Regions from separate parts of the Homo sapiens genome. Here region 2 is linked to region 1. Evidence: fine-mapped expression QTL. Tissue or cell type: whole blood. Region 1 holds a variant in brackets; the other region holds the start of a gene. All regions are shown on one strand. Distances are between the middles of the regions.

Region 1 (2,500 bases):
GAGGGCAGCTAGGGAGGGAGGGGTGGTCGGCGGAGGCGCCCCTTCCTGCCTCTTCCGAGGACCCAGGCCTGGTCCTGCACCTCTGGGCTCAGGCTCTGTCTCCAGGTCAGGGCTGCCCTGTGCCTGCACACCTTCCCCTGCCCAGCGCGGCCTCCTTTGCAGGGGGACTCTGCGGGGAGCTACTCTGAGGCTGCCCCTCCCTTTCTCTGGGATGTTGGCACCAAAGAGGTGCCCAGGCAGGAAGAGCAGCCTCCCCTCCCCCTCCTCTGCACGTGCAAATGGAAGACAGCCCTGGGCACAGGAGGGGTGGCTGGGGGCAAAGAACCCATCTGGACTGTGGCTTGAGGAGGGGGCAGGGTCAGGGTCTCTGGCAGCTGATGGGACCCCCAGAGAAGCAGAGGAATGTTGGTGCGAGGCCCACCAAGGGGGACCCCATCTTCCTGAGATCTACCGTTTTGGCAGAGCTCTGTGGGACAGACCAAACTTCCCTCTACAGGTGATGAGATTGAGGTCCAGAGAGGGTCTGTGAGCCGCCGGAGGTCATATAGAGGATGCTGCCCACAGAAAGATTCTGCCATGGGCAGGGAAGCCCCACTCCCAGGTGCGGAAGCAGCCACAGGCTCCCAGGCAGCCCTTGCTGAGGGGTGGGGAGAGGAGCGCCTGAGGCTCCTCCGAAGTCGAGGGTCTTTGTCTGGTTTCCTCTCATAGGATCCCTGCCCTTCTACCTAAGGACTGATGAGGTTAGCTCTGAGCGATGCTCCAGTAGTGTGGGGTTTCCACAGGTATCCCCAGAATCTAAAAACAAGAAACAAAAATCTCATGACAAATAGCGGCTGTTGCAGTTATCATGACAGTTAGTGAAAAACTTAGTAATGATTTAGTGATTAACACAGGGTGGACTGTGAGAGGGTGGAAGCCACCTGCGCCATGTTTTGGAGGGGCAGTGCTGTCATTTTGAGTTGGCCCTGGTCATGCAAGGACAGGATGAAGCCAGGCCAAGGTCCCCCATGTCACAATCAGAGTCCAGGTGCTGCCCTGCCTGGAGCTGCC[C/T]TTCCCTGGTGCTGCCCACCTGAAGGCCATGGGACTCTCATCCTACTGTAGGGACGCCCATGCTGTGGCTCCCGGGAGCCCCAACAGGGCGACCGGCAATTTCCTCGGGTGGCCAGGGGACTGACCCGCATGCAGTGATGCTGTGGCCTGGGGCTGAGACGCTAGAGTCACAGAGAAGCCAGTTCACCAACTTTATCAACCTCATTATTGCAATTCTTGTTTTATTCCTGCCCCCACTGGAAAGTGGACTTACGTTCTGTCATCTGCCATGCCATGAGCTGGGGTGCCTGGAAAGTCAGCTCAGGGCCTGGCTCAGGCTGGACCCTGACCAGGCGTCCAGTACTGACTCCGGGACACAGCTCTGCTAGAAGTGAGAAGCAGCATCTCCCACTGACCCCTTCGTTTTGTTCTGTATCTTAGTGTAAGGCATCCCATTTAGGGGAACGTGGTTTCCTGAGCTATTTGGACTGAATCGAAGCACCGTTGGGCTCTTGCCTCCTGTGGTCAGGGCCTCACCTGGGATGGGACACCAACCAAAGCTGCTCTGTGCCCTGGCTGGGCCTCAGCCTCTCGGAGGCAGATAAAGCATGGATCTCCCTGCAGAGTGATGCCCATGTGCCCATGCCCGGCAGCCAGGGTGGCCCTGGCAGCACCCTGAAGCTCACTCATGGTCCAGGAGCCCATGGGCCCATGCCCGGCAGCCAGGGTGGCCCTGGCAGCACCCTGAAGCTCACTCATGGTCCAGGAGAAGAGCTCTGCTTGGTTTCTGCCTGGTTGACTCCCCGACACTTCCGTCTGCCCCCTGCTCAAGCCACCATGCATGAAGGATGCTCTCCAGCTACAGAGAGATGAACCCAGCTGTGCGTGGAGGCTTTTCAATTCTAATAGAGGAACCAAGAAATGTCCCCTTTGAAAGGAGAAGTGTGTCACTGCCATGGGCTCTAGACACATGTACCCCACCTCTGTCTCCAGTTGAGTGCCCATTCTCTGGAAATCCACAAACATTCCAAGAGCTAGACTTCTCCTGAATCATCTCAAATTCTTCGAACTTCACTGGTCTAGGGAAGGATGTGAGGAGGTGACAGAGGGGCGGGGCAAGACCCCCAAAGAGGTTAAATAGGTCACTGCCACCCTCGACTCTCAGCAGGGTGTCTCCCTGAGCAGAGGGACCTGCACACAGAGACTCCCTCCTGGGCTCCTGGCACCATGGCCCCACTGAAGATGCTGGCCCTGGTCACCCTCCTCCTGGGGGCTTCTCTGCAGCACATCCACGCAGGTGAGAGCAGGGGACAGGTGGCCAGGGGCAGGCACCGGGAGGACAGGGGTTGGGGGCATGAAGACCACCACAGCAATACACACGTTTGTGTATTATTTACACCCCACCTACTCCCACAAAAGACGTGAGAAGCCCACAGCACTAGGATTTTGAGGGAAACAAGCAGAGAAAAAT
Region 2 (2,500 bases), 50 kb after region 1:
AAATACGGGTAACAGAAGCCTTCCCACAGACCATCAGCTCCCTTGGCTGCTCTTGTCTGACGATTTTAGTGGTACATTCTTTAGCCCCAGTAATTTTCTCAGCCTCTACACTGGCTGGGTTCCCTTTGCACGTCTGGTTAGCTCTGTTTTCTGCTTTGCTCTCTTCTGCCTGTCAGCTGAATATTAATGGGGGAAAGTCAGCAACTAATTGAATTTCAGATCTCTTGTGGGTCTTCCACTGGATCTTTTTTGCACCTCTCAATTCCTTGTATCTCTTGACATCCTGTGAAGTTTTCGCAGTAGCTGTTCCAGTTTTCATTGCATTCTCCTTTTTCCTTCATAGCATCCATCTTACACTCAGCAGACAACCATAATTCTTAATTTACCAAGATGACACAGGTTATGGAGCAGGGTTCCATCAGTGCCCACCCTCTGTTTCAGGAAGAGGTGTCACTCTTTGCAAAGGCAAACTCCTCTTTATCTGGTTACTCTTCTCCCAACTCTTAAATGTATTTCCTGCCACGTTCTATTTTAGAGCTTTTCTCTGTTGGAGCAGCAGCCACTTTTTTTGAGGCCCATTTAAACCTCTCTCCAGTCTGTTTAGGGGACTTCAGTAGTTCTTTGTTGAGCATGCACCCCACATGGTGCCCACTGCCAGGCACTGGGGATGCAGAGACAAAGAGTTCCCACTCACCCACCACAGCTACACAGACTGTAGAGGAAGCATTAGGTTAAAGAACATTGTATCTTTTCCTGAAGTTTTCAGAAGTGCATGGTCCATACTTGAGACTGCAAGGGAAAGGGTATTTACTTATAATTCAGGTATACTTTGCTAAAATATACATTCATATTAAAATATACTTTTGTTTTTCTATAGATGTACAAGTTCTTTTTAAGTGCTTCATAGTATTCCATGTGTGTATACTCCACCAGGTCTCTTATCAATGGACAGTACAAACAGTACTACCACGAACGTCCCTGCACTCGTATCTTTGTTTACAACTGCAAGTGTTTCTGCAGTATGAATTCTTAGAAGTGTTACTGTTAAGTGAAGGACGTATGCGTGTTTTGCCAAACTACCCTCCGAGATAGCTGAATCTGGTACATTTTAAAGCAGGAGGCCGCAGAAGACGCTCGGCAGTTCTGGCCTCCGAGCAGCAGGCGGCGCTGTGAGTCGTCTTTGCGGAAGCCGCGGAGGCCTCGCTGACTGACTTCCGGTGTTGGCGGTGGCGCCGCGCAGTCACCGCGGAGCAGACGCGGAGGCTGGTGGCCCCTGGGCGAGATGCCGTACGCCAACCAGCCTACCGTGCGGATCACGGAGCTCACTGACGAGAATGTCAAGTTCATCATCGAGAACACCGACCTGGCGTAAGGCTACCGAGGGAAGAGGCTGGCGGCTCTGGGGCGCCGGGAGGCCCAAGCCGGGGCCCCGGGGCAGGGGGCGGGGGTGTAGTGGGGTGGGGTGGGGGCGATGTCCTTCCAGAGCTGCCCCCCTGCACCAGGGCTTTAGCTTTGGGAGCCTGCGGCGCGGGCCCAGCCTGTCGAGGCTGCAGCGCCTTCACGCCCCTTGGCTTTTGATCTTTCAGGGTGGCCAATTCGATTCGGAGGGTCTTCATCGCTGAGGTTCCCATAATAGGTAAGCGACTCCCCTTCCTCGTTCCCGCGCCCACGGGTTCCTGCCCCGCTCTCCACCCACACACTCTTTGGGGCTCCTTCCAGTCCTTGGTTCGGGCTGAGGGTGGTAGTGCTGAGAAAAGTGCATTGCTGGAGACTTGACCATACCCTGTGCCCTTGGCTCAGTGGCCGCCTCCCTGGCGCCCACGGGCCACTTAGGTCCACCCTTGTCCTGGGTATGCATTGCTGAGAAGCATGGGTTTAGCAGTGTGCAGACTTGGGTTCAAATACTGTTTTCACTACTATTGTTACAAAAGTTTTTAAAATGTTTTCAACTTTTATTTTGGAGTCAAGGGGTACATTGGTGCAGGTTTGTTGCCTGGGTATAGTGCGTGATGCTGAGATTTGGGGTATAAATGATCCTTTCACCCAGGTAGTGAGCATAGTACGCAATAGGTAGTTTTTCACCCCTAGCCCCACTGCCTCCCTTCCAGCTCTAGTAGTCACCAGTGTGTTTATTGTCATCTTTATGTCCGTGCGTACCCAGTTTTAGCTCCCATGCGGTGTTTGGTTTTCTGTTCCTGTGTTAATTCTCTTAGGATAATGGCTTCCAGGCCGCGCTCGCGCCTGTAATTCCAGCACTTTGGGAGGCCAAGACTGAGGAACACCTGAGGCCAGGAGTTTGAGACCAGCCTGGCCAACATGGGGAAAGCCCGCCTCTACTAAAAATGCAAAAATTAGCCAGGTGTGGTGGCTCCCACCTGTAATCCCAGCTACTGGGGAGGCTGAGGCAGAATTGATTGAACCCAGAAGGTGGAGGTTGCAGTGAGCCGAGATCATGCCACTGCACTCTGGCCTGGGCAATAGAGTGAGACTCCTTCTCAAA

The links. PIP is the estimated chance that this variant, and not a neighbour inherited with it, causes the effect.
Region 2: it holds the start of POLR2C, and the variant in region 1 is fine-mapped to the expression of POLR2C in whole blood (TOPMed, PIP 0.99).

Annotation. Positions count from the first base shown.
Region 1 is chr16:57,411,677-57,414,176 of GRCh38, forward strand. CCL17 (C-C motif chemokine ligand 17) reads left to right here. Exons shown (of 4, transcript NM_002987.3): 2 at 2,198-2,326. The coding sequence starts at 2,257. Among named protein-coding and RNA genes, the nearest start is that of CCL17, 8.2 kb to the left of the region's middle. RefSeq lists an enhancer at 2,182-2,231. The variant C/T (reference allele first, on the strand shown) is at 1,051.
Region 2 is chr16:57,461,443-57,463,942 of GRCh38, forward strand. It overlaps POLR2C (RNA polymerase II subunit C), which reads left to right and starts at 1,237. Exons shown (of 9, transcript NM_032940.3): 1 at 1,237-1,368; 2 at 1,587-1,636. The coding sequence starts at 1,283. RefSeq lists an enhancer at 1,095-1,389.